7 linked regions of the Homo sapiens genome follow. The protein of the gene in region 7 purifies or fractionates together with the protein of the main gene of each other region. This does not show direct contact. Each region holds a gene or a part of one and is shown on either strand. Other genes may lie near its edges. The genes, in order: ATL2, LCLAT1, ATL1, IMMP1L, SLC25A17, NUS1 and TM4SF5.

What was found.
Region 1: the proteins of TM4SF5 (region 7) and ATL2 purify together in Homo sapiens (affinity purification with mass spectrometry; one large-scale study listed by BioGRID and IntAct). This does not show direct contact.
Region 2: the proteins of TM4SF5 (region 7) and LCLAT1 purify together in Homo sapiens (affinity purification with mass spectrometry; one large-scale study listed by BioGRID and IntAct). This does not show direct contact.
Region 3: the proteins of TM4SF5 (region 7) and ATL1 purify together in Homo sapiens (affinity purification with mass spectrometry; one large-scale study listed by BioGRID and IntAct). This does not show direct contact.
Region 4: the proteins of TM4SF5 (region 7) and IMMP1L purify together in Homo sapiens (affinity purification with mass spectrometry; one large-scale study listed by BioGRID and IntAct). This does not show direct contact.
Region 5: the proteins of TM4SF5 (region 7) and SLC25A17 purify together in Homo sapiens (affinity purification with mass spectrometry; one large-scale study listed by BioGRID and IntAct). This does not show direct contact.
Region 6: the proteins of TM4SF5 (region 7) and NUS1 purify together in Homo sapiens (affinity purification with mass spectrometry; one large-scale study listed by BioGRID and IntAct). This does not show direct contact.

Annotation. Positions count from the first base shown.
Region 1 is NC_000002.12:38,374,191-38,378,907, reverse strand, and holds the start of ATL2 (atlastin-2), read left to right. Parts: upstream 1-1,634; 5' UTR 1,635-1,647; coding exon 1,648-1,765; intron 1,766-2,377; exon of another isoform or gene 2,378-2,728; coding exon of another isoform or gene 2,729-2,792; intron 2,793-4,717. UniProt on the Homo sapiens protein: Atlastin-2 (ATL2) is a membrane-anchored GTPase that mediates the GTP-dependent fusion of endoplasmic reticulum (ER) membranes, maintaining the continuous ER network. It facilitates the formation of three-way junctions where ER tubules intersect.
Region 2 is NC_000002.12:30,641,787-30,645,067, reverse strand, and holds the end of LCLAT1 (lysocardiolipin acyltransferase 1), read right to left. Parts: 3' UTR 843-3,281; downstream 1-842. UniProt on the Homo sapiens protein: Exhibits acyl-CoA:lysocardiolipin acyltransferase (ALCAT) activity; catalyzes the reacylation of lyso-cardiolipin to cardiolipin (CL), a key step in CL remodeling.
Region 3 is NC_000014.9:50,629,104-50,633,144, forward strand, and holds the end of ATL1 (atlastin-1), read left to right. Parts: intron 1-891; coding exon 892-906; intron 907-3,125; coding exon 3,126-3,236; 3' UTR 3,237-3,942; downstream 3,943-4,041.
Region 4 is NC_000011.10:31,461,052-31,465,092, forward strand, and holds part of IMMP1L (mitochondrial inner membrane protease subunit 1), read right to left. Parts: intron 2,255-4,041; 5' UTR 2,226-2,254; coding exon 2,121-2,225; intron 1-2,120. UniProt on the Homo sapiens protein: Catalyzes the removal of transit peptides required for the targeting of proteins from the mitochondrial matrix, across the inner membrane, into the inter-membrane space. Known to process the nuclear encoded protein DIABLO.
Region 5 is NC_000022.11:40,816,122-40,820,914, forward strand, and holds the start of SLC25A17 (peroxisomal membrane protein PMP34), read right to left. Parts: upstream 3,226-4,793; 5' UTR 3,128-3,225; coding exon 3,074-3,127; intron 1,257-3,073; exon of another isoform or gene 1,082-1,256; intron 1-1,081.
Region 6 is NC_000006.12:117,692,258-117,696,298, reverse strand, and holds part of NUS1 (dehydrodolichyl diphosphate synthase complex subunit NUS1), read right to left. Parts: intron 3,258-4,041; coding exon 3,132-3,257; intron 2,269-3,131; coding exon 2,119-2,268; intron 1-2,118. UniProt on the Homo sapiens protein: With DHDDS, forms the dehydrodolichyl diphosphate synthase (DDS) complex, an essential component of the dolichol monophosphate (Dol-P) biosynthetic machinery.
Region 7 is NC_000017.11:4,778,007-4,782,047, forward strand, and holds part of TM4SF5 (transmembrane 4 L6 family member 5), read left to right. Parts: intron 1-2,782; coding exon 2,783-2,863; intron 2,864-4,041. UniProt on the Homo sapiens protein: Acts as a lysosomal membrane arginine sensor.

The sequences.
Region 1 (4,717 bases), on a different chromosome or scaffold from region 7:
GAAGATTTTTTTGCCCTTCTTCTCCTCCTCCTCCTCCTTCTTCTGCTTCTGCTTCTTCTTTTTCTTCCTTTTCAATACTACGTTTTTCAGGCCAATGATAAAACAGAAAATGTCTTGACAAAGTGAGCTCTCCAAATCATATATCACAAGGACGTAAGAGGAATATCACTTAACAAGTTGATAAAGATCCTGCCATCAATATGAACGAGGGGGAAGGGTAACTGTACTTTAGATTGTGGAGGTGGTTCAAGTCCCAGAACTAGAATCTTAGTAACTCAAAGAATATTGCCAAGAACACGTATATAGTTATTCTCCTAGATTTATGTGACAATGATGACAAACTCCATATTCTGTTGAAATATATTTGGATGGGCCGGGCGCAGTGGCTCACGCCTGTAATCCCAGCACTTTGGGAGGCTGAGGCGGGTGGATCACGAGGTCAGTAGCTCAAGACCAGCCTGGCCAAGATGGTGAAATCCCGTGTCTATAAAAATACAAAAATTAGCAGGGTGTGGTGGCGGGGGACTGTAATCCCAGCTACTCCGGAGGCTGAGGCAGAGAATTGCTTGAACCCGGGAGGCGTGAGCCACCATGCCCTACCTAGAATGGTATTTTGAAAGCTTTAATAACACCAGTGCTTTTCTAGAGATTGTGCATGCTGTGAATTTTAGACTTATGAAAAGACCTGGACAAAACAGCTGTTTGTACACCCGGACATCTGTTTTTACTGGAGAAGAGGAATTTCTAATGCAGCTGGCAGTATGGTAAAAATCCAAAGGGATCATGTTTCACAGACGCCTCCACGGGCTGACTTGTAATTTAAAAAGTGACCTGAACTTTCTACTGGATGTCACTGGATCCCCAGAAGAAGGTTCATCACAATTAGGTAAGAACCTGCCACGATTCATTTTCCGATTAGAGTGCTTTCTGGCATGCCTCTGCAAGGTGCTAGGAGCACAGGGCCAGGGTATACACAGTTGAGAAGATGGGGGAAGGTCTCATAAGTAGATGGGGAGCGAATGCAAACAAACCTTAGGATGGTGGGGGGGAGGGGAAGCAACAGTAGGGACTTGGGTGAGGAAAGAAAAGATCAAGAGGAAAAGCAGGGCACTGGCAACAACTTGGGGGGTGGATGGGGAGAGAGGAGGGGAATGGCTGTGATGAGGAGGGGGCGATGAAAAGGAGAGAAGGGGTGCGAAAGCCACCTCACGTGCAGGACGCACGAATCAACGATTAGAGATGTAAAGCGAATTGGGAGGGAGGGACTTAGTTCTCTGGAGCTCCCTTCTGCGTTTGCAGAGCCTGGCCCAGCGCTAAGGGGGTGTGGTGCTGAGCTCAGGGAGGTGGGGGTGTGAGACGGCGGCGGCAGGGACACCCCCGCCCCAGTCCAACCAGAAACTTGGAGCCGGGGAGACGGATCTGCAGGCGGGCAGGGCGAGGGCGGAGCGAGCGAGCGATGGGCGGGGCGGGGGCGGAGGGAGGGCGAGGAGATACAGGCGGAGGGCGAGGAGATACAGGCGGAGGGCGAGGAGATACAGGCGGAGAGCGGCGCTAGGACCCGCCGGCCACCCCGCCGGCTCCCGGGAGGTTGATAAAGCGGCGGCGGCGTTTGACGTCAGTGGGGAGTTAATTTTAAATCGGTACAAGATGGCGGAGGGGGACGAGGCAGCGCGAGGGCAGCAACCGCACCAGGGGCTGTGGCGCCGGCGACGGACCAGCGACCCAAGCGCCGCGGTTAACCACGTCTCGTCCACGACCTCCCTAGGTACGGGCCAGCGAGGCAGAGGCCGCGGGGCCCTGATGGGGAGAGACGCTCGCTGCTCGGGCTCGCGGGCACCGGCCGCAGGCGGCGGGGTCGGAGTCCGCGGCTGGTTCAGGTCTCCTCCCGCCGCCGCGCCTGCCCGCCGGGCCTAGCCTCAGCCGCGCCCCGCGCTCCCGCAGCGCGCGGCCTGAAAGGGCGGCTCGTGGGCCGCGGCTCCAGTAGCTGCTGGGAGAACCAGTGGCGCGCGCGTCTGCGACCGGCCCGGCCCCCTGCCCGCCAGCCCGCCGCGTGGCTGCCGCCGTGTCCGCCCCGACCTTAGGGGGCGGCCTTGAGCCGTGGCCGCCTGCCCGGGGCGCGGGGAGGTCGGCTGCGGCTCCGCTCCGTCCGGCGAGCTCCGGACGCGGCGGGGCGACCCGTTAGCTGGTGGGCGTTCGCTGTCCCTTACGCGGACAGGGAGGAAGGGGTGGCCAGGGCATGATGGGCCCCGCGGAGGAGGAGGTCGCGCGGGGAGCAGACACCTTGCTGCCGGGTCCGAAAGCTCCTTAGACACCCTTCCTGGAGGGAACCGCAGTCCGCAGGCCAGGGCTCTGTCCCCGGGCTCGCGTTTCGGGGCTCCTCGGCTCCCGAACCCATTCGCGCGGGTTGTGCGTGGCTAGGGTGCAAGTCTAGATTTTCGTGTCAAACTGGGGTTATGAGCCGTTTACGAGTCACTTGGACGATAGTAAGGCCTGATCACTCTGAAAGTGTCTGTAGTGTGAAGTCACCTGATCCTTGGCTCCCTGGTTTTGCTGAATGTGAGCTCCTACTGTACGTGTACCAGGAGCGCCCCTGCCCCCTCGAAGACGCAGTTGCGTTGGCAGCGCAGTGTATCCCTCTCACTCATAACACCCCTATTTATAGGAGTTTAGCGTTTGATCTCTCACTGTGGTGCGAATTGATCGCATGAAATCCTGATTGAAAATTTTGATGGTACTTAAGAAAGGCATAAAGTTTTTTCAAAGGCTTATAAATAGTAAAAGCCTACGATTTGGTAAGTACGGCCAAGATAAGAGTTTATTATTAAATACAGATACGAGCTCGTGTCTTAAGATTTCTTTTTTTACGGTGTGTAAAGGTTTTGCTGGATAAAATGTAAAGCATTTTGGTATGATGTTAACCACAAGGACTCACTTTAATAGGAAAGTTTATTTGAAATATACTTCATCATTCCTGGTAGTTCTTGGCGCATGTCAGAGGTGATGACAGACTGGAGTTTTGCTAAGGGAAGAAGAAAAGGAAATAAAGCTTATTTTATTATTGTCTGCCAACCAAAACGCTTGACTGTTTGTACAGTGGTAGCACTCTGTAGAATAAAAAACTACCAAAGAAGCAGCTTCGCCTTAGATGTGTGCTGGTTGGATTTCTTAAGTAATTAATTGTTTTGGAATGCGGATGGATTAATTTCGCTCTTTTGGTTGGACCCTAGGGGAAGAAGTGTGTGTTCTTTTCTTTCTTTCTCTTTCTTTCTTTCCTTTTTTTGAGGTAAGAGTTTTAGATGCAGTTTCAAAATATTCTATGTATTTACCTTATTAGAAGAAACATAAATTTATACTTCAGTTATGGTTGTGAACGTTGTTGTGCTGTGGTATCTTGAGAAGAGATGATACTCTTCAGATTGTTGTTGAAATAGGGCCCACCATTTATTATTTAATAAATGCTTTTGTCTGCTACTCATAGGTTTTTGTCCTTTGTTTTTTAGGACGGATCAGCAAGACCTTCACTTGATAGCCATTCCTAGCAAATGATTGCCTAAAACAGTCCCTGTACCTGCTAATTTGCTCCGAGTCACTCATTAATGAGTTAAAAACTAAATGAGCTTGGTAGGATTTGTGTTTAAAGTGAGAAGAAACAGACTGAATGAAAAGGACTCATCTATTTTTGACTGTGTAGAAACTCTTTGTCTCCCTCTGCTTCCTGGAGAAATAGCTTCAAAAACCAAGTTGGGGTCAAGTGTCACTTGAGTAGTTTAGTGTTAGGGAGAGGCTTTGTGTTTATTCTTTTAGGAATGTAGGATCTTTAGAAAGCAAATAAGTACTCATTTTATTGGCTTTTTAAGTTGATAGGATTCTGTAGATATGATTAAATCTATTTAGTAAAGTGTTTTGAAATTCTTCGAAATTATTTAGGGAGAAGTAGCTGCCTTACAGTAAAGATATTATAGGGAAAAGAAACCCTGAGTGAAAATAAGATTATGGCCTTAAGTCGAGTGCACATAGGTGTATTTCAGGATTCGTTTTTCTGTGACTGTATTGTAACTTTAAAGTTTTGGAATATTCACAAGTATAAGTAACTTTCTTGAAATTGTTAGACCTTTTCCAAAATTAGGCTTTTTCCACAGTTGGTATTAGGCAGCTAGCTGCTAAGAGTACGGGGAGACTGATTAACTAGTTTGATAATGCTGGATGGAGTTCAACATATATTTTTTAAATTTTGGGACTTCATAGCAAGATGTATTAAAAAATTGTTGATGGTCATTTGGAAGACCTGTTTGACACACACAATTGTCAGCAAAGCTGTTTGTCAGGCCCTTAAAAAGTTAAGAGCCAGAAATGTAAGGCATAGGAGTAGAAGTTAAACTTTTTGGTAATGGTGGTTTAGAGCTTTACAGCGCAAAGATTTTCTCCAGATAGGTGCAGGGAAGCAGCTTTCTTCTTTTCTTTCTTGTTTTTAACGTGTAATGGTATTCTGATTTTGTAGACATTTTGGGTTTTCAAAGTCCAGGTGTATTATTTACTTTCTAGAAAATTTGAGAGTTATTTACTTTAAGGAATGTAGATGTGAACATAGAATAACTGAACTTGATTCCACAGTGAATTCATTACTTTAGTAGTTTTCTTCCTATCCGTTAGTCCTCCACACAGCACATGATACACAACACTCGAGGGCTTTCTCTATGGCTTTAAAAATGGATAGCAG
Region 2 (3,281 bases), on a different chromosome or scaffold from region 7:
ATCCCAGGACATACTAGCTGGAATTTGAAGCCCTCACTAGAAATCCACCCTCCAGAGAGGGTTGCTTAAGCCTTTTATATAATTTATCAGTGAAATGAATAATGCTGAAGCTAAGTAGGTGGTGAGAAACAAAACCCTTCTCTTCCTTTTGCTTAAACGGAGGACAGGAGTCCCACAAACCCAATGTCCCAGTCTGTGGGACTGGCGCTCTTGGGGCCGGGTCTGTGCTCTTCTGGTCCTGCATTCCCCTTTCCCAGGGAACAACGTTGTGGACTCCCCTCCACATGAATCTATCACACAAAGTGCTCACTTGAGAAGACAGAGTGGGGCATTGCAGAAGGCCCCATTACAAGAGGCTCCGTGATTCTCATGTGTTTGTCTGTTTGCTAAGCACATTTTTATACATTTGTCAGATTTTGGTCCAAGATTTGCTTTTATAGTTATATACTCCCCAACGTGAGGTCAGGGACTGGAGCACAGAGTCCCACTTATCTTAGGTAAGAGTTGGTCATGCTGATATTTATATAAGATCCCACATTTGTGGAACAACCAAATTGTTCTCAATAGCAAGGCTGTGCTAAGAGATGGAGGAAAATCAAGTTCTGATGACATTCGTTGAGTCCTTAATTCAATTGTGGTGCCTGGACTTTTCCTATTATGGAGGTAGTACATTGTTTTCTTGATTAGGCCACTTTTCTTGACATCTGTGGAAAAAAGAGACCTAACTGGCCAGGTTTTTCCTTAACACTAGACACTGCAATGCAAGGCATTGTGGGGAAAAAAGTAGCACCTTAACTTGCAGTTACTTGTTATTCCTGCAAAAACAGAACGTAACACACATGTAAACTATTTAATTCACTCCTTTATTCTGGGATGTATATTACAGATAACACAACTCACAAATATACCATCAGACATTGAAAACTAAGGCCATTCTGTGAGTTATTTTTAAAACTTGGTGTTTTGCACATAATGATCTTAAAAAAAAATGAATTACCAAAACCAAGATTCTCTTCTAAAATGAAAATTTAATGCAGGTACAGGATAACTTTAGGGCTATATCTAATCTGAAGCTTATCAGGTAGCAAAACCATTTTCGTTTTCTACAGCATAAATAACAGCTCTAAGGCAACCACTACCTCAGCATGAAGCTCATTTCTCCACGTTAGAGTAGTGTTTACCTGCTACAGTGACCAGTGTTTAGAGACCATTTCCCTTTCAGTAGCAAAAAGAGACTTTACCTAAGAAACACACTACATACTACAGAATCCTTGGAACAAGAAACAGAAAGGGAGCTGTAACTAAGGCACTGAAAGCACATTATTTGTATAAAGAAATGTAAACAATTTAACACCAACAGGCTCCCTCCGTTGGAGTCTTTATTGTAAATGCACACAGGGGCATCATAGTCAGGGCTAGAGTTTGAAGTCTGGGTGAAACAAATGTTTCTGCAGAGTTCAGAGTCTTGGCTGCCAATATATTTCTAACATGGTGCTGTTGAATTAACTATTTCAAAGTGACTCAAGTGGAAGCTGGTATTTCCCTTGAATCTGAGTTTTAATAGCATTAACAAACAAGGAAGAATTTTATAGGAGTCCTAAAATTACGGGCTCTTTCTAACATTTATTTGAGTCTTTTATCAAGTTCTTCTAATGAATTTTAGGATTATTTTGGCTTATTTCATCAAGGAAGTTTGGTGTAAGAACTTGTTACCTAATGAGTGCCCCTCCTTGTAAGTTCATATTTCAAGTTACATGGTTCATGCCATAAATAAACCACACTTGCTTTAACATCGTTCAGAATGGTACATTTAACAATTGGACATACAGCACTGTAAACAATTCAAAGTCCATTGAGCTTACCATGAAAGAACTGAAACGTATGTAGGAACTGTGTCCTGCTGCAGACAAGCAGCTGCTCTGGCTCTGGTGCGGTGCGGTGCAGTGAGGTGAGGTGGGCAGGTGTGGAAGGGAGAATTCCTGAGGCCAGTCACAATTATTGAAGCTAAATTAATTTCTTCCTGACACTTTAGCATTAATTCTAAGTAGTTCTAAGTTCTAAACCATTAACTGTATAGTTAATTTTTTTAAATCAAAGAAGAAAAAGGCTTTCACACAGATGAATGTATAGGAAAACACAAGTAATGACAATTTTCAAGAGCCTTATTGTAAAAAAAGAAAGAAAGAAAAAAGGACAATTATTTTTGGAGTTACTGTCTCTAATTCTTAAAAAGTAAGTACAGTGTCTGTATCTCTAAGTTTTAGTGCTATACAGCACTAAATGTACTTTATGAATTTGGGGTAGGTAAAGTTTGTATTTTATCTTAAACATGTTTTCTATGATGAAAAGGAACAAAATTGTAAAAAATGAGGATCTTCCCTCTAAAGGTTTCAAAGCGTTAGAGGACATGCAATTAAATGTTGTTACACCTTGAACAATGAGCCTCTTGAGTTTGTAGGAAGGGCAGACCGGCTCCATTACCAACAACTTTGGGGTAGAAAGCACAGCTCTCCTCTTTTACCCAGCACAAATGCAATCCTGATTATAAAACTATTTGTGTTTCTAAATACAACCAAAGGAAATCTTAGAGAAACATAAATTAGAAACCTCTTTTATTAAGGGGAAACAACAAAAAAAGGTGCTTTTTTAAAAAAAAAAAAAAAAAAAGAAAAGAAAAAGAAAAAACAAGCTGTAAAACCATGAAGTTAAAGAGCTGGGTCTGGAGCAGATGTGCATAATAACTAGTTAGTTGCTCCCAGCAGGATCAGAAACAGCTTTGGGGGAGCAGAGGAATATGGGTTGGTGTGTTTCAGAAGAGGCACCAGTTAATACTCTTCCAATAAAAATGATGTGTCAACAGTGTTCAGCCTCAACCAGTGCTTTCTCACAGAATCTGCTTGGTAAGTTCAGTTCACAATGTGTTTACCTTTCATGGCAATGCACGATGCAATTATTGGGTAGGTCACTGTCAAGCAAAAACGAGATATAATTACAGAGAAGGCATTAATGCCCAAAGAGTACATAAAGCAGTAAGTAGCTTCTGAGGCTGGTTCAATGCAGAAGTAAAACTAACAGGTTTGCTAACAGCTAAAGACTTTTAATTGCCTCATATTTTCTGCAGCTCTGACCAGCATCCTTCTTACACGACAAAAAAAAAAAGAAAAAAAAAAAGAAAAAAAAGTGTGCAGCTCCAACAGAGTGAAAATGACAACACTTTTCTTTTGCCTCAGAAGAAGACTGGTGCTTGGTGTGCTGGATTTTCCACTGACTCCAAATGACAA
Region 3 (4,041 bases), on a different chromosome or scaffold from region 7:
TCTCATATTTACAACCTATGATTTGATTAGCATTAGCTTTGTTAGGAGCTATCTGAACCACTATCATAAGTTGTCATATCATTCTCTTTTTTAGTTAAAAACTTCCAAAAGCAGTATCAGATTACTTCAGATTGTCTCTGTACCTGTAGGCAGCAGGTAATAGCTACAATTCTTCCAGCATTAAGAACATACTTATGGCCAGGTGCGGTGGCTCACGCCTGTAATCTCAGCACTTTCCGAGGCCAAAGTGGGCGGATCATCTGAGGTCGGGAGTTTGAGACCAGCCTGGCCAACATGGAGAAACCCCGTCTCTACTAAAAATACAAAAATAGCCAGTCATAGTGGCGCATGCCTGTAATCCCAGCTACTCGGGAGGCTGAGGCAGGAGAATCGCTTGAACCCAGAAGGCGGAGGTTGCACTGAGCCGAGATGGCACCACAGCACTCCAGCCTGGGCAACAAGAGTGAAGCTCCATCTCCCAAAAAAAAAAAAAAAAACCCTACTTATATATACTTTATAACATAATTGTAACGTGCCTTTGAAGGATCTAGCTGAGATAAACTAGTGGTAGCACAATGGGAAATGAATGAAGTAAAAACTGGATCCTCTGAGCCACTTTCTGAAATAGTCCCTCAACCACAAAAGATTTAAGAGGGGTTGAGGTCAATGTCAAAACCCTCCTAGACTTATGTTATGCTAAAACCTATGAGGAATACAGAATTGAGTTCTTCAAAGATTCTGATAAAATATGTAATCTAAACTGAAAAATCTGCAGGAGTATCTGTTCTGAAATGCTCACAAATTAATATTGTAAGCAAAGTTGATTATAATGCTGTTAATAAAGCAGGATATATACTTTTCTTTTTTCTTTTTAATCTGCCTTTGCCACAGGGAAGTACAAATGAGGTAAGTTAAATTTTTTAAAATTCAGAGCTATGTATGTGTAAACATTATGATATTATTTTATAAACTGACTAAGCCATTAAAAGATGTCTTTATGTAGATTAGAACAATCTTTGGTGACTTCTAACATTTAAATTTGTAATTGTGAATTTTTAACATGGTCTTAAAATATTTAACTTTTTCTAGACATCATGTATGATTTGATCTACACACACACAAAAACTAAGAATTGAATATCATCAGTATTTGTTTCATGAATGTGTAGAAAACTTCAAAATTCTTAAGCTCTGAAATGGTGGACTCTGCTGTACTGCAGAGTAAAGCAAGCAGTTATGAAACCTGAGGAAATGTAACTACTGGAGGGTATTTATTTAAATGTAGCTACAACCTTTAGAAGTTGTTTTCAACTTTGGCTTTTGACTGACAGTAATACATACCACTTTAAGCAGGGCCCAGGCCAGTATGTATTCTTTCTTGGCAGACCTCAGGCCTGACCTGTAAATTAGTGTTCATTTCTCCTACCGCACATGTGCAACACTACATATCTCAGAAAAGACTCTAGGCATCCACGAAGGAATCATCTGTTACACTAAGAAAAATTACCACTCTGGAATCATTTAGGTCATTATCTTCAGGAAGCAAAGCTGATCTTGAACAACTATAGAGATAATTCTTTCCTCAGTTTCTACTGTGGCATATAATTGGATTATGTCCTCGAATCAAATACCATTTACTATTTACAAGTCAATAAGAAGTTATTTTATGCAAAATTCAGTAAGCAAGTTCATTAAAAAAGCAAAAGCAAATTTCAGCTTTGTAAATCAAAGCTTAAGAAAAAATATAAGAGAATTAGAATTAAATTGAATGCCTTAGAATCAGAATATAATGGAAAACAATACTATGTTGCACCAATATACATTCACAGATCTGAAGATGGTACCATACAGACGTAATGCCATAAGAAAATCAAGGCCAGGCGCGGTGGCTCACGCCTGTAATCCCAGCACTTTGGGAGACTGAGGTGGGCGGATCACGTTAGGTCAGGAGTTCGAGACCAGCCTGGCTAACATGGTGAGGCCCCATCTCTACTAAAAATACAAAAAATTAGCCAGGTGTGGTGGCAGGCACCTGTAGTCCCAGCCACTGGGGAGGCTGAGGCAAGAGAATAGCTTGAACCTGGGAGGAGGTTGCAGTGAGCCAAGATCGTGCCACCACTGCATTCCAGCCTGAGCGAGAGAGTGAGATTCCAACTCAAAAAGTAAAAAACAAAAACAAAAACAAAAAAAAACCAGATCCAAAGAAAGTAGGTATAGACTCACAAATGATAAAAATTAATGGAATTTCCTGGGAACAGATTACTATTTAAAGGATCTCAAGCTTTTATGCAGCTTTTAAAAATATTCAAAGACTCTTTACGAACTCCAGAACTAAATCAGACAAGTCATTTGTAACTGACTGTCAAGTATGTGAAAGTCAGAGGAGGGGATGAAATCTTAGACACTAGCTAACGGGGCCAGGAAACAAAGATATCTATGAACACTTATATAAAGCAATATACAATACACAGAGATTCCTATGATTCAAACATCATTAAAAACCCACAGAGAACAATAAGAGGTAGTTTTAAATGAGGAAAGCTTGCTGAGGTAATGTTTTTGAATAAGGTTTGTAAGATATTAGCTAAGTCACGGAAACAAGGCAAGAGCGTGTAAAGTGAAGGATCCTACTGTGCTGGGGGAAGGACACCATATGTGCTTAGCTGCATGACTGTATCAGTAAATGATGGAGAATAAAATTGGCCCCACTCAGGAAAACACTGGAAGCCCAGAAAGCAAGTAGCCTAGCTATGCATAATAGTTACTGCCAATCAGAAGTTATGAGGTCTTACAATTCATCTAAAACTGCTAATATTCACAATTTGAATTTTCAGCACACCCCTGGGGCAAAGTAGAAGCTCACTGCTCCAAGAGGTATGCAAGGTAAAAGGAAACACAGTTTGAGAATAAAACATTCACCACACAGGTCAACACACAAAAGTGTTAATGCACACATTGAGGAGTTGAAAATACTTTTGAATTTTAAGATAATAATTTATATATCGATTAAAAAAGATTTCAAATTCAACATGCTAAATTTTATACAGTACGATAAACTAAAAAGGAAAAAATTTTACATCTGTGTGTTTAATAAAATGTTTTATAATTTTGATGCTTTTATTCTAGGCTTTGTACAAGCTTTACAGTGCAGCAGCAACCCACAGACATCTGTATCATCAAGCTTTCCCTACACCAAAGTCGGAATCTACTGAACAATCAGAAAAGAAAAAAATGTAATGCAAATTTTAAGAAATACAGGTGCATGACCAATTGTCAATTAAATATTCAGTTTTATGTCTCCATGCAAACATTCAAAGTGCTTCCATCAGAACGGAGTAAAATACTAAACACCTCTGAAGACTGCAAACTGGATTAGTTCTTTTACTTCAGTGTTTAATAAGCAGATGTATGTATGCATGGTTATACTATTTTGTTAACATGTACAATTTCCTGATTTTTCTTCAAAAATGCTGTTATAAAGTATTTGTCTATTTATGATAACAGTACACGTGTTCTGCTTGAATTTACTAAATTCTACTACTGGGTTATAATTAAATCATGTGATATTCCACGTTTGGATATGCTCATTTAATTTCTACAGAAAAAATTTTAAATTATTTCACATTAGCCATTTGTTAAAACACAGCATCATAACTCAGCAGGCTGGATTTAATCTGTATCATCTTATATATATCACAATCTTATTTTTAAGCACATTTTAGAGTTCCTTAGTTGCTTTATCAAAAACCAGATATTGCTTTTACATGGTTTAATAGAATATAAACCTCTTGATAAAAAATGCACAAAAAATCACTTTGTATATGTGAGTTTCACTGCATTGTATATTTTTTCATTTGGTACACAAAGAATGTATTCTTCATAGGTTTATTCTTTTAATATGTGAACTATTATTAAAGTTTACTCTGGTTCCTAAGATTAAAAACAAATGCTTACTGAATTTGAAAATGAGAGGTGCTGATATAGAATGATGAAGGTTTATCTCTTTTTTTAGACTCAAGATGCATTTTATTTAATGTTGACA
Region 4 (4,041 bases), on a different chromosome or scaffold from region 7:
AAGAACAATGTTTGGTACAAAATTGATAAACCATACATATTGGTTGAATGAATGGGAGAATAATACATTTTCTTATTACTATCAGATATAATCCAGTGAACATGATGATGATTTACTAAATGGTATTATACTATTCTCAGTGAGCTTATGCCCATCTTCCTCTTCCAAGAGAATAGCTTACTCATTTCATGGGGCTGCAACTTAAATGTTCTACTGAAAAATACTAGCATGATGAGATGGACTTTAAAGATTTTCATGGCCAGGCATGGTGGCTCACACCTGTAATCCCAAAACTTTGGAAGAATGACTTGAGGCCAGGAGTTCAAGACCAAACCTGGCAACCTAAATAGAACCCATCTTTACAATGAAGCAATTAAAGATTTTCCTATTTGTATGTCTCAAAACAATAATCTTGATATATACAGGTTGAGTGTCCCTAATAAAAAATCTGAAGTCTTAAATGCTCTAAAATCTGAAATGTTCTGAGTGTCTACATGACACCACAAATGGTAAATTCCATACCTGACCCCATGTGATGCATCACAGCCAACATGCAGTCAAAATTTTTGTTTCATGCACAAAATTCTTTAAAATAGTGTATAACATTACCTTCAGGCTATGCATATAAGGTACATATGAAATATAAATGAATTTTGCGTTCAGACTTGGGTCCCATCCCCAAAATATCTCATTATGTATATGCAAATATTCCAAAATCCAAAAAAATCTAAAATCCATAACACTTCTGGTCCCAAGCATTTCAGATAAGGGATACTCAAACTCTACCTCAGAATCAGAAAAAACTATCATCGCCACTTTAAAAATCTAAATCCGACAGTCTCCATTTACTCTATTTGTAAATAAAACTTTTTACTCAAAAGTTCCTACTCAGGCAGAAATAGGAGGAAATACAATTACAGTTTGTTTGCTACCTTTGGAAGTACCAATCTAACTTACAAAAAAATCAAGAAGGCAAGTTTCAGCCAGGTACAGTTGCTCATACCTATAATCCCAGAACTTTGGGATGCCAAGGTAGGCAGATCACCTGAGGCCAGGAGTTCGTGCACAGCCTGGCCAACATGGTGAAACGCCATCTCTACTAAAAATACAAAAATTAGCCAGGCATGGTGATGTGCGCCTGTAGTCCTAGCTACTTGGGAGGCTGATGCATGAGAATTGTTTTGAGCCCAGCAGGCAGAGGCTGCCGTAAACTGAGATCACTTGATTGCACTCCAGCCCAGGCAACAGAGCAAGACCCTGTCTCCAAAAAAAAAAAAAAAGAAGGGAAATTTCAGTTAAATATATATATTTCCATTACTCCACCTTAACTGGAGGTTATGTGACTGTCAATCTGATAAAGTAAACCTAATTTAAAAAAAAAAACAGTAATAACAACAATAAAAAAAATTGACTGGCTGGTCAATCAATTTATTCTTTCACTTACATGACAAAAGGCTTGAATCAACAGCCACAGTTTGTAGTTTCCCAATATAATATTAAGAAAAAGTATTAGTTGGGGATAGGGAAAAACTTTAACATTTTAATATAGACATTAGGCAGAATAATCTGTCTTAATTACAGATGATTAATTTGTTTTAATTACAGTTATTGTGGTTATGAGCTGGAATTTTGAAAACTGGACAAATATGTGTTGAAATTTCAAGTTACTTACTAACTGTGGGACCTGGAACAAGTAAATTACTTAAGCTTTCTCAGTTCATTTCCTCATGTGTATAATGGATTACTAGTAAGTATCTCAAAGAAGTGTAAAAGATTAAATGAGTTAGTAAGTGTAAAACATCAAACATATCCTGAAACACAGTAAATAGGATTCAATAAATGGTAATGACTATTATTGTTATACTATTCAAAAGGACCCTTTGTGCCCATTAGAAACAGAATACAGAAAATATTTAAGTAATGGTCCTTATACCTTCTATCAGTGCCAATTCAAACACACTCTCTTATTATTCCAATATTTAGAAAGATTTTATGTTTTAACTTTCACAGTTTAGTCATTAAATAACTTCAACTAGGTTTTCAAAAGGAAAAACACACTTTCCTTCCATTTGAAAGAAAGTATATATTTAAGATGAATATTCTTGAACATAAAAACTTACCATGACAACACCACCAACGTATTCAAAAGCACAATGAGCTATACAGCCATATTGAATAGTATAGCCAACAAGTCGAAAGGTTTTCCCCAGAACACCACGAAGCATAGTTCTATGTAGACTCTGCCACCATTGGCCTGATGGTAAATTTCAAAAAGTTTCATGATCAATACTATTTAAAAACACTTAAGAAATAACTATTGTAAAATATTTTACAATCACCCAAAATGTACTAAGTGCCTAATACAATTTGGTGCAGGAAACCAAGAGTTTGTTATCAGTTCTAATGATATTTTAAATGGCAAATTGTAGCCACTAAATATTTTGATTTACCAAAGTTTATATTCAAATGTCACTGGGTCTACATATGAATTATATAATTAGTAGATTATAAACTAGTCTGTCCCCTTCCATGTCTTGGTTGTTTCTTCTATTAAGGCAGATGCTTAAAAAAGATAGTAACTCTTTCAAAGGACTAATAAAAGTTCCTTGCTATATATTACTTCTTGCCATGTAATAGGAAATAATGGAGAAATCACTAGAATAGGAATATGGAGATTCAAGTTTCACATTGGTTATTTTACTAACTTGTATAATCTTCAACAATTACTTAACCCTTCTGGGGCCTAGTAGAAATACTCTCATAGAATGATTATTAGAATCAAATTCAGCAATGTATGTCAAAGTACTTTATAAAAAGATACACTCATTTGTGAGCTATTAACTACTGATGTAACAAAAGGAACACATAAATACTATGAAACAACAGCATAAAGAACCATTTAAAGATTTTTTAAAGCTATATAAAATTTTAAAATATTGTTCATCTAAAATATTTCTAATATCTGTCCTTTACTATTTAACTGTTACAACTATGTATCATGCATTTCTTAACTAATAGCCTAACTCTTAGGCCTAGGCTACAATATACTGTTCTCAGATCAAATTTATTAAAATATATCGATAATAATATGTAACATCTGCTTAACATGTCAAGATTTACATATACTATCTCTGTAAGATAGATATTATTACCATCCTCAATTTATAGACAAGAAAAAAAAAGCCTAAGAGTAGTAAAGTAACTTGCTTATTATCATCACAAAGTTGGCAAAGGATGAAGCCAGTAATAAAAGGTCTCCCAAAAAAGAAAAGCCCAGCATCAGATGGTTTTACCTCTGAATTCTACCAAACATATAAAAAAGAACCAACACCAATTCTTCTCAAACTATTCCAAAAAACTGGAAATTGAGGGAATTCTTCCTAATTCATTCTACCAGGTCAGCATTGCCCTAATGCCCAAACCAGATGCAGGAAAAGAGAAACTGTAGGCCAAAATCCCCAATGAGCTCAGATGCAACAATCCTTAACAAAATACTAGCAAACCAAACCCAACAACGCATTAAAGAGATAATATACCACGATCAGATGGGATTTATCCCAGGGATGCAAGGATGGTTCAACACATGCCAATCAAACAGTGTGATATATAGCACATCAACAGAATGAAGAACAAAAACCATACAATGATCTCAATAGATGCAGAAAAAGCATTTGATAAATTTCAACATCACTTCACGATACAAACTCTCAAGAAATTAGGCAAAGAAGGAACATACATCAAAACAATAAAAGGCAATATATGACAAACCCACAGCTAATATCATACTTAATGGGGGAAAAGCTGAAAGCCTGTCCTCTAAGATCTGGAACAAGACACGGATGCCCACCTTCACCACTCTTATTCAACATAGTAACGGAAGTCACAGCCATAGCAATTAGGCAAAATAAAGAAATAAAGGGCATCCAAATTGAAAAAGAGGAAGTAACTATCCTGGTTACAGATGACATGATCTTATATATAGAAAAACCTAAAGACTTCACCAAAAATACTTTTAGAACTGATAAATGAATTCAATATAGT
Region 5 (4,793 bases), on a different chromosome or scaffold from region 7:
GAGGTTGTGGTGGGCCGAGATTGCATCACTGCACTCCATGCACTCCAGCCTGGGCAACAAGAGCGAAACTCCATCTCAAAAAAAAAAAAAGAAAGAAAGAAAGAAAAAGAAAAAAAGAGAAAAATAGGCAACAAGTGAAAAAAAGAAGTATCTTTGTAGATTAAATAGAAATATATTACCACTATTGCCAGTCACTCTCTCTATAGCAGGAGTCAGAAAACTATGGCCTATGGGCCAAATCCAATCTAATATCTGTTTTTGAAAACAGTATTTTATTGGAACACAGCTCTGTCCATTCATTTACTGTCTACAGCTGATTTCACACGACCATGGCAATGTTGGGTAGCTGTGACAACGGTACACAAAGCCTAAAATATTTCCCATCTGCTCTCTTTAAAAAGTTTGCCAATCTCTATGTTCTTTTATAGCACTTAACTGTATCTAAAATTATTCTACTTATTTTTTATTTATTCATTTATTTTTTATTGTTTTTTTTTTTTTTTCTTGAGACGGAGTCTTGCTCTTGTCACCCAGGCTGGAGTGCAATGGCACAATTTTGGCTCACTGCAACCTCTGCCTCCCAGGTTCAAGTGATTCTCCTGCTTCAGCCTCCCGAGTAGCTGGGATTACAGGCGCCCACCACCATGCCTGGCTACTTTTTGTATTTTTAGTAGAGACGGGGTTTCACCATGTTAGCCAGGCTGGCCTCGAACTCCTGACCTCAGGCGATCCGCCTGCCTCAGCCTCCCAAAGTGCTGGGATTACAGGCGTGAGCCACCGCACCCAGCCTATTCATTTATTGTCTGACTCCCCTATTGCAATGCATAGTTCATGAAGAAAAAGACCTTCTCTACTGTACTCCTTGCACCTAGAACAGCGTGTGGCACATAGAATGCACTCAATAAAGGTGTTTAATGAACATTTATTGCAAGAAGGAAGAGAAAAACATTTCCCATCTTCTCACTTTCTTCTCTTAGATGCACTCCAACTATTTCCCCCACCACTCCACCAAAACTGGTCTTTTCAATTAACCACTGGATTTATCAACATGATAAATTCTCAGTTATTTCTCAGTCCTCACCTTACTTGACCCATCAGCAGCATCTGACCCAGCTGGTCTACTTCCTTCCCCAGAAACACTTTCTTCACGTGGCTTTCACTCTTAGTTCTTAGCTTCCCTCCTGCAGTACTGATCCATCCTTCGTTTGTCTCCTTTGCTGGTGCAATCTTATTTTCTCGGCCTCTTAATGGTTAGCCTGCTCCAAGACTCAGTCATTGAGATTCTTCTGTCAGTCCATACACACTTCCCTAGTGAGCTCATCTAGTCTCACGACTACTCTTAGGCATTTCAAACTCCTCCAAAACCAAAGCCAAATTTATCATTTCCCCCAAAACCTTCTCCTTCACAGCCTCTGCCATCCCAGTAAATACCACCATCCCTCCAGTTACTGAAGCCAAAAACTCTTGGAGTCAACCAACCCTCATTTTATAAATATATTCCAGGTCAATGATCACTTCTACCATGTCTGCTACCACCCGGATCCAAGTCACCATCATCTCTCGCCTGATAATTGCTTGTCCCCTGTTCCCTTACATTCTACTCTCAACACAGCAGCCAGGGTGATCACGTTTAAAGGTAAATCAGCAAGTTCAACAGCTAGCCAGAGTGAAAGTCTCACACAATTTGGCCCCCTGAAACCTATTTGCCTCTTTGTTCCCTCCACTCCGGAAACACAGGCCTCCATGCCCATCTTAAAGCAAGTCACGCAAGCGTCCATCTCAGCCTTCATGCTGGCTGAAAGGCTCTTCTGGCTGAACTGAATGAACCAGGCTTCCTGAATTAGGCATTTTCATGAAATGCTGTGTCACTTAATTCTCTAAACTCTGTGAGGTAGGTATCACTTCCCCCACTTTACAGATTAAGAAAGTAAGGTTTACAGGGCATCTAGCTAACAAATGATGGAGTTAGGGTTAAATCCAGATTAGTCTACAGAGAAGGTGAGCTCTCAGTGAAGTTTCTGGAGGCTAAACAGAGGATTCAGTGATGTTCCTCTGAAGTCACAGTGATTTTAACAGCTAAAGGTGTGTGCTAACAACTGGTGAAGAATATGAGAAAAGGCAGTCAAAGAGATAAAAGAACCACAAGAGGAGTCACCCAAGCCAAAAGTGGAAAGTTTTAAGGAAAAGAGGGGAGAGGGGAAGTGTCAAGTGGAACCTAGACACCAGAAGCCCAAGAATCAAGCGTATACCTCATAACAAACCACACTTGTGGTAGACAGGAACCCAGATCTTGATTTAGAAAGAAAGAAAAAAAAGCCAGGCACAGTGGCTCATGCCAGCAGTTTAGGACGCCAAATCGAGAGGATCGTTTGAGGCCAGGAATTCGAGACCAGCCTGGGCAACACTGCCAGACCCCAAAAATTTTTTTTAAAAATGTAGCCGGGTGTGGTGGCTCACACCTGCAGTCCCAGCTACTCAGGAAGCTGAGGTGGGCGGATCGCTGGAGCCCGGGAGATCGAGGCTGCAGTGAGTCGTGATCGCGCCACTGCACTCCAGCTTGGGCAACAGAGCAAGACCCTGTCCGGAAAAAAAAAAAAAAAAAAAAGGATCTATCTTCTCCTGCCAATAACGGTGCCCAGAGCTATCCTACTAGGTATTGCCACTTGCCCGCGGCAAGCGTGAAGACAGGCTGTAGGGAAGCATGTGACTAAGCAACACGGCTTCACACCTACGTTCTCCTCCGGGCCAGTAAAGCAAAGTGTGTGAGTGTGCGGTGGTAGCCTGACCTTAAACTTCCCACGGCAAAGATGCGGACCCTGAGCGGGCACGTGTGAACACGGCTCTCTACCCCGCAGTCTCTAGGAGACCAGGAGGTGGCGGAGTCTCGGCCCTTACCCCGAATTCCTCCAACAACTTTCCGCCAATGGCCCATTCCTCTCTGCCCCACAGTCATGACAGTGGACCCCAACCCACACTACCTCCCTCTCAGACCCATCCCTCAGGCATATCCCGGGACTGGCCCCCGAGAAGCCTTATAACCCGTTGCGGCCCGGGCGTAAAGACCCCGTCTCACCACGGCTCCGGCCACGGCGTGGACCAGGCTTTCGTAGGACAGCACGGAAGCCATTGGTGCGGCTCCTCGAAGACCCAGCCACACTTTTCCCACAGATGCCGCAGCCAGTGGAGTTAGGAAAGGAGCACCGGAGCTCAGGGTGTGAGAGTCGCAATCCCCGCCCTCTCAAACCCGCCCGCCTGCCCTAGAACCACTTCCGGGTCGCGGGGCGGGAAAGCGGGGGGGGGGGGGCGGCTAAGAACGCCCCTGAACGCTGATTGGCCCCTGTGGGCGCGGGGCGGGACAGCGAGGTGTTCGCGGGGCTGGGCTCCAAGGCGCAAGGCGGCCTGACACCAGGTACCCGGCTCCCGGTTCCTCCGACGTTCTCTGGCGTTCCCGGGCCCTGACCAGTTCCTCCATCTCAGAAGTCTTAATGGCCTTCTTTTACTCTGGTGACAAAGATGGGGAAACTCAATGAGACTCCAGTCTCCCTGTTTCTCTGCGCCTGAGCTCTTTTCTATTCTGAAAGTCACATTTTGGCCAAGAGGAAAAAAACTCACTTGTGGACTTGGAAACTTCTTCCTCCAGAAAAACCCTTGAGTGTGGTGGGAAGAGATGTTGAGCATCAGGAGCCCAAAATACAAGACGCGAGTGGGAGCCTCCCCCTAGTTGGCAACTATGGAAGTCATTTAACCTCTTGGGTTTCCTCTGTGAAATGACAATGTACTAGTACCAACAATCCCCATCTGCTGTGAGGATTACGAAAGCCAATTTATGTAGTAGTACTTCATAAAATACTGAAGGAAAAAAATTTTTTTCCATGTTGCAAAGTGACTAACAAAATTACACAAAACTAAAGCAGCCACATTCAGCTTTAACCTGTCATACTGTGAGATTCTGCTTCAGGATGCTCCTCAGGGACTCAGGGATTCTTTCCTGAGACACCATCACCACTTGTCTTTACCATGTTTCCTTTTAGAATATCCTCGTGATAACTCCTCAGTGCTGACTACATGCCAGGCTTAGTGTTTTATGCCCATCATCACACTTAATCCCTGGGAGAGGGGTCTAACAAAGTTTAACCTGGCCGTTTTCACAAAATTTGCAGAAGATACTGCTTCCAGGAACATTCCCATCACGCCATAGAATCATGACGTGAAAGTGAAGGACCAAAAGTGAAGCGAAGATGATTTTGGGCTGGGCGCAGCGGCTCAGGCCTGTAATCCTAGCACTTTGGGAGGCCGTAGCGGGCAGATCACTTGAGGTCAGAAGTTTGAGACAAGCCTGGCCCATATGGCAAAACCCTGTCTCTATTAAAAATAGAAAAAATTAGCCGGACATGGTGGCACGCGCCTTGTAGAAATTACAATGTTGAAACTGCAGCTACTAGGGAGGCTGAGGCAGGAGAATCGCTTGAACCCAGGAAGCAAAGGTTGCAGTGAGCCAAGATTGCACCACTGCACTCTAGCCTGGGACAGAGTGAGACTCCTAAAAAAAAAAAAAAAAAGATTATTTTGGCATGGGAACATAGAAACTAGTTGGCTGTAAAACTTGAGAACTCAGTTCTCATTGACTCCTGATCAAATTGGGAGCTTGCTGTCAAGAATATACTGGATTATGCATCATAGTTATGAAAACATTGTTAATACTTTGTTTTGACGTTTTTGTATCTTACATACCAAAAACATTTTGATCAGCTTTTTTTTTTTTTTAAACCTGAGACAGTGTTTCTCTGCGTTGT
Region 6 (4,041 bases), on a different chromosome or scaffold from region 7:
TCAGATTTGCCCTCAAGAGGCTTTTTCCTAGATTTTGTAGGTGTGTTTCATTCTTTTGTCTCCTCTCTGTATTTGTAAATAGCTTATCTTCAAGCTTGTAACTTTCTTCTGCTTGATCAATTCTGCTATTAAGAGACTCTGATGCATTTTCAGTATGTCAACTGCATTTTCAACTCCAGAATTTCTGCTTGATTCTTTTTAATTATTTCACTCTCTTTGTTAAATTTATCTGATAGAATTCTGACTTTCTGAATTCTTGAAAACACACAAACATCCACACAAAAACTTGTACACAAACAGTCATACAGCATTATTCAAAAACTGGAAACAAACCACATGTGCATTAACCGATGAATGCATAAGCAAAACGTGGTATATCTAGAAAATACTACTCACCAATAAAAAACAATGAATAACTAATGCATTTTACATAGATGAACCTCAAAAATATGGTAAGTAAACAAAGCAAGACATAAAAGACTATATATTGTATGACTCCTTTTATATAAAATTTATAGAAAAAGCGAAAGTATAGTCAGAAACCAGACCAGTGGTTGCTGGTTTAGGGGGCAGGAGTGGGGACTAAATGCAGTCACAAAGGAACTTTTGATGGTGATGGTATTCAGAATGCTTGCCTCTGTCAAATTAATAAGTTAAGAATTGTGTACATTTTCATTTATCCTAAGCTTACAATGCCTGAAGGCAACAACTGGGCTTAATAAACATTAGCGCTTTCCCATGGACTACCTGAAGGTCATCTTTGGATCTCCATCAACTTTTAGAATGTCCTTATGAAATTACTCTCTTATTAGGGTCTCATAGGGTGCAGGAAACAGTCAACATCCCAGTAACATCTGAGCAGAGAGGCCCCATAATGGTCTACTACTCACTGAGCCTGAATATAATTAGGCAATGACAGGGTAGGGTAAGAAGCAAGTAGTCAACAAAAGTAGGAAGTTAGCGAAACCAAGAAGTGGGAGATGGACTTTGCTCTGTGACGGACACATGTCAAAGTGGAAGAAACAAAGAATGGAGAGTTAAGTAAATAAGTTAAGATAGAAAATGCATTTCTTTTTCTTTTTTTTTTTTTTTTTTTTTTTTTTTTGAGACAGGGTCTCACTCCGTCACCCAGGCTAGAGTGTACTGATGCGATCTTGGCTCACTGCAACCTCTGCCTCTTGAACTCAAACTATACTCCTGCTTCAGCCTTCTGAGTAGCTGGGACCACAGGCGTGAGCCACCATGCCTGGCTAATTTTTTATTTTTTGTAGAGATGGGGTTTTGCTATGTTGCGCAGGTTGGTCTCAAACTCCTGCGCTCAAGCGATCCACCTGCCTCAGCCTCCCAAAGTGCTGGGATTACAAGTGTGAGCCACCCCATCCAGCCTGAAAATGCACGATTAATAAGTAAATGGATAGTCTAAGTAATAAAAAATGAATGAATGTCTAAAACTGTATGCCTATAGAAGCTATTAATGAACATGAATTTACTAGAGAGATTGTCTTTCTTCAAAAGGATCAAGGCTAATGCTAGTAAGCAAGAAGAACCATGACATTATGGCAAAAAGGTCCTAGAGGGAATTCTCTAGACAGAATATGCAAACCAAAGGCTTATTTAAACAGCTGAAGAAAAAAAGTTATATTTGGTATAACATGACAAATACAGTTGTATATTTGGTATAGCATAATAGAAAGAATAATTAAAAAGGAATCATGGTAACAGTAAGATTATATTCCTGGGATCACCTCATAAAAAGATTAAGTTCAAAGTTAAGGGAAAGTTCAAACTAAAAAGAAAGGGGAAGAGGGAGAGGAAGGCTAACAAGCAGAAGTCCTATTTTCAAGAATATTCATCACTACAAAAAAGATCCTCAAAGGTCATCTCCTTTACCATTAAATCCTCATGCGAGTGAGTGGCTACAAATTTCATTGTCTCGAAACCATTTTTACATAGGTCTTTAAATTTCAGAAATTTAACAGGTATTAACAACAAAAGAATCAGGCTTTATGGTGTGAAAGAAACAAAAATATTTTCTTTCATACTGTATCCTCGTGTGACAAAACTAAACACACACACATACATATACATATATATGTATATATATATAAAAAAACTTACTAAGTAAACTGGCTAACGTATCTACATCCAAATCTGTGGGTCTCTTTTGCTTCTGGGCTACTAACTGGCAAAAGTCCTGAGCAGCTCTTACAATATCTGCTTTTCCATCTTCCGGAGACAGCACCTTCACTGCCAAATGGCAATTTAAAACTGGAAGAAAAAACAAACAATGTATTTTAAAAACACTCTCTTCCAGGTATATTTCAAAAGCAGTTTTAAGAAATACAAGGTTAAACCAAAATAAACATACAGTTCTTACAGTAAACAAGAATTTTTTAAGCCCTTCAATTTCAATATCAAAACATACTTAGCTATTCTCCTCTGAAAGGATCCATATATCCCAAATCACATCCATGTATATATTTATACACTGCCTTCTTTTCAAAGTGTTCAGAATGACTATACATTGTGACTACATCCTCTAGAAAACAGAAACTTTATAGGCTAGCTAACAAATTTTCACGCATCTAAAATTTCCTGTATAATTGCGATATCGTTAGCAGTAACACAGAATAAAAGAAAAAATAAAGACTAAGAAAAAACTGTTAGAGTGGAATATGCATTGCCTATAGCATACATACCTTTATCAATTCTACTTTTATAGGAGCTATCTTACAATTGATGGGATTCTCAGATAACACTGCAAAATTCTTATCTATAGACATGCAAATTCTTTCTTGTCCAGCAAAGATTCAATTTCTTTCCTCACTCCATAGAACAACCAGTTGTACCTCTATTTATATATTCATTTCAATATCTCTACAAATGTGTCCATTCTATGGATTCTCTGTGGAACCAGTTAAAAAATTTGCCTGGTTAAATAAAATCCTTATCATGTGTTCACTTTTTACCAAGATTAAGACGAGAAAGTCTAAATCTGATGATTAAAGATGTTGACAATAAAGAGTAACAGAGCAACGTGAATGAATAAATGACAGAGTAACAGAAATTGCCATGAAACACAAAACACACATCTTCATATGTTACATGTTCAATTATACACTCATGCTTACCTTGATCATCTTTGTCATTACTATTTGCAAATTCTGGTGAGTATTTTGAACAATCTAGGCCCAGAAGTTCTTGCTGTTGTTTTAAAATTTCATCCATCAATCTGGAATTATTTCTTTTGAAAATACCTTTAAAAAAGAAAAAGGCAAGTAAAACACAACTAGGTTAATTTTTCCTCTTCAAGTGAATGCTTGCTATGAAAACAACACTAGATCCAGAACTAAACGAATGTCAAACAAAGCTGTAATGACTAGTCCTAAACTAGAATCTAAAAGGAAAACATGACAACAAAACTTTGTTAATACAAGAGTCTGGCTTCCAGCAAAAAAAAGAACAGAGGTAACTACTTAAGTAGTGGCATGTGAATATGACAGAAATTTAGACTTAGGAATTTTAAGAGATCACTTACTTAAAATCTTTATGGATTCAGAAACTGAGGCCTAAACTCTTTAAGGTTCTTCTCCAAGAAATTATAAACTGCAGCAGTGGTCTAGAGCCTGTTATGTTCCTCACTCACAGTCTAATGTACCTTTTCTGCAGATTTACTACTTGTATTAAATAATCTTGCCTCAATTTGATTAGTTTTTTAAATCATAAGAGGAAGTAATAAGGATTACGTAAAAAGAGAACAGAAAAACAATTTAGTAAATTTAAAACAAAGCACAGAAATAAAATACAAAGAACAATGTATGGTCCTCTATGCAGGGAAAAGTTAACACTGTTAACTACTGTCATGTTATTGAGAAAGATGAGAAAGACAAAGGAACTATGTGACATACATTTAATGTAAAACTAGTAAGAGCTCTGACTAAAAAAAAAGGAACAAGTCTTTGACAATTTGCAGAGGCAGCTTTCTAGTAGCCATTGCCTTTTTAATCTTTATCAAATGTTCCTACTCTGCACTCTCAGTCA
Region 7 (4,041 bases):
CTGCACTCCAGTCTGGGCAACAGTGTGAGACCCTCTCTCAAACAAAAGCAGAAACCTCAGACAAGTAGATCATTCAAAATTGGTAAATCCAAAAGGCAATTCTAGGTGTGTTTGGATCCACAAGCCTCCAGTAAGTGACCTAACCAGGGAGGTAAAGTAAGGTGTCAGCATGGGTCCTGGCCCTGCCATGAGACAGGAAGAAGAGAGAGCAGGTGTTTCTCTGAGGTTGCTGGGGATGATATAATAGAACTGAAACTCTCAGCCCTTTCCCTGGAGAAGCACAAAATGCTGCCTTGGATGGTATGTGCCAGATAAGACACATGAGGAGCCAGGCACAGTGGCTCATGCCTGTAATCCCAGCAATTTGGGAGGCTGAAGCAGGAGGATTGCTTGAGCCCAGGAGTTCGAGATCAGCTAGGCAACATGGTAAGACATGAACTCTCCAAAAAAATTAGCCAGGCATGTTGTTCCGCACCTTTAGTCCCAGCTACTCGGGAGGCCGAGGTGAGAAGATCATTTGAGCCCAGGAGGTTGAGGATGCAGTGAGCCATGATTGCACCACTGCATTCCAGCCTGGATGACAGAGTGAGATCCTGTCTCAAAAAGCAAACACACACACACACGAAAGCAAGAAGCAAGACAGCTGTGGAATTCCAGAGATAGGAGACAGGCAAAGAACCTGACCTGGTGCAACGAAGATAAAGGTAACGGAGCCAGATGAGGAGGCTTAAATGCCTTACAAGAGTTAGGCGTTCAAGTTACAAGTCTTGGCCAGGCGCGGTGGCTCACGCTTGTAATCCCAGCACTTTGGGAGGCTGAGGCAGGCGGATCACGAGGTCAGGAGATCAAGACCATTCTGGCCAACATGATGAAACCCCGTCTCTACTAAAAATACAAAAAATTAGCCCGGCGTGGTGGCATGTGCATGTAGTCCCAGCTACTCAGGAGGCTGAGGCAGGAGAATCACTTGAACCTGGGAGGTGGAGGTTGCAGTGAGCCAAGATCACACCACTGTACTCCAACCTGGTGACAGAGTGAGACTCCGTCTCAAAAAAAAAAAAAAAAAAAGAGTTCAGTCTTGATGGGCTTCTCTGTGAAGAGACCCTAAAGGATTTGAGCAGAGAAAAGACCAGTTGAAAGCTATGTTTAGGCCAGATGCAGTGACTTACACCTGTAATCCCAGCAATTTGGTAGGCCAGGGCAGGAGGAGCCCAGGAGTTCAAGACCAGCCTGAGCAAATAGCAAGACCCCATGTCTACAAAATTTTTTTTAATTAGCTGGGAATGATGACGCATGCCTGCGATACCAGCTACTCAGGAGGCTGAGGCAGGAGGATCACTTGAGCCCAGGAGGTCAAGGCTAAAGTCAGCCACGATCAAGCCACTGCATTCCAGCCTGGGTGGCAGAGTGAGACCCTGTTTCAAAAAGAAAGAAAGAAAAAAAAAAGCTATGTTTAACCTGATAGAGGATAGAGTGTAGGGTGGCATGGGGCAAGAGCTATGAGAGTGTAATAGGGAGGCTGAGAACACCCTCATGGGAGGTGATGAGGGATTCAATGTGGGGAGGAACTCACAGATTCAGGAGCCACTTAAGTAAAAGTTGAGAAAATTTGATGTCTTTCTGGGTGCAAGATTAAAGCTTTCCAGCCTGGCTGACCTAGTAGATGTTATTTTTTCCACTGATGGAGACAAGAAAGTCAAAGGGAGATGAATTTGAGGAATATTGTGAGATGAGCGTGAGGCTGGTTGAATTTGAGCTAAAACCAAGATATTCAAGTGAACATAGGATCTGGAGGCATCAGTTTTGGAGGCAACTTCTGGCAGAGTGAAGAGCTGATTCCCTGAAAGGGGATGGGCATTGTTAGGAAAGCCACAGGGAGAAAAAAAGACCAAGGCTTGAATCTTGGAAAATGCTACACTCCATATCAGACCATCCACTAGCACTCTTCCACACTCTACTGTAATCCCAATTCACCAGACACTCCAACACCTCTATCCCTTCCTGCTGCTGAGGGAACTTATAAATATTGAGTTACTCTGAGCTGGTCTTTTTTTTTTTTTTTTTTTGAGATGGAGTTTCGCTCTTATTGCCCGGGTTGGAGTACAGTGGCACGATCTCAGCTCACCACAACCTCCACCTCCCAGGTTCAAGTAATTCTCCTGCCTCAGCCCCCCGAGTAGCTGAGATTATAGGCATGCGCCACCACGCCCGGCTAATTTTGTATTTTTAGCAGAGTTGGGGTTTCTCCATGTTGGTCAGGCTGGTCTTGAACTTCCGACCTCAGGTGATCCACCAGCCTCAGCCTCTCAACATGCTGGGATTTCAGGCGTGAACCACCGCGCCCGGCCTCTGAGCCAGTCTTAACACCTAGTCAGCTTGTTCTCCCATTAAATCCTGAGAACAGACCTGTGAGGTAGATCTTCCAGACCCATTTTATACAGGCAAAACTGAGACCCTGAGAGATGAATCAATTCATAGCATGTGAAGTAGTTTCCCTGATTTCCATTCAGTAGGGCACCTACTATGTGCCAAGATTGGGGAAAATAATGATATTGGGCCCTACCCTCTAGAGGCCACAATCTGGACAGAGATAAGGTAGGCACGTAAATAAGGATAAAGTAAGGTGAAGCCCAGCAGCTCCAGGAGACGTAGAGATAAGGTCTTCTACAGTCCAAAGGGCTGAAGGCATCACAGGCAGCTTCCTGAAGGAGGTAGGCACTGATGCAAGTCAGGCCTGGAGGATCTGGGGGGACGTGCTATAACAATGACTCTTGTCCCACAGGTACTGTGTCCGGGGATTGCAGCCGTTCGGGCAGGGGGCAAGGGCTGCTGTGGTGCTGGGTGCTGTGGAAACCGCTGCAGGGTAAGATCCAGATTAAGAAGGAATTCAGGGCTGGGGGTGGTGTCTCATGCCTGTAATCCCAACACTTTAGCAGGCTGAGGTGGGAGTACGGCTTGAGCCAGGAGTTCTAGACCAGCCCAGGAAACATGGCAAGATCCCTATCTCTACTAACAATACAAAAATTAGCCGGGCGTGGTGGCAAGCACCTGCAATCTCGGCTACTTGGGAGGCTGAGGTGGGAGGGCCGCTTGAGCCCAGGAGGTCCAGGCTGCAGTAAGCAGTGATTTAAAAAAAAAAAAAAAAAAAAAAAAAGAAGAGAAAAGATACAGAAATTAGCCAGGCGTGGTGGCGGGCACCTGTAATCCCAGCTACTCAGGAGGCTGAGGCAGGAAAATCACTTGAACCCTGGAGGCAGAGGTTGCAATGGGCCGAGATCACACCATTGCACTCCAGCCTGGGCAACAAGAGTGAAACTCTGTCTCAAAAAAAAGAAAAGAAAAGATACAGAAATTAGCCTGGTGTGGTGGTGGGCGCCTGTAATCCCAGCTACTCAGGAGGCTGAGGCAGGAGATTACGGTGAGCCAAGATTGTGCCATTGCATTCCAGCCTGGGCAACAAGAGCAAAACTCCGCCTCAAAAAAAATGTATTTTTATTTTATTTTACATTTATTTATCTTATTTATTTTAGACATAGTCTTGGTCTGTCACCCAGGCTGGAGTACAGTGGCACGATCTTGGCTCACTGCAGCTTCCGCCTCCCTAGTTCAAGCCATTCTTGTTCTTCCAGCCTCCCAAGTAGCTGGGATTACAGGCGCCTGCCACCACACCCAGCTAATTTTTATATTTTTAGTAGAGACGGGGTTTCACTGTTGGCCAGAGTGGTCTGAAACTCCTGGCCTCAGGCGATCTGCCCCCCTTGGCCTCCCAAAGTGCTGGGATTACAGGTGTGAGATATCGTGCCCAGCCTCGAGTCAGGTTTAAAATAAATTTCCCTTCAAACCCCGGGCTTGCAGTTAGGCTAACCTGAAAGCCAGCGGCCGCCGAGATTCACTGGGGTTGTAGTTCCCCCCTCTCCCCTTCACCCGCCTACCCCTCAGGATCATTGAGATCTGAGATTTGTGGGTGCCAGGGAAGGGTGGGGTGGGGCCTGGGAGTCCGCAGAGGAGCTTGTGTAGCTAGGAATTCCATAGAGAGTGCTG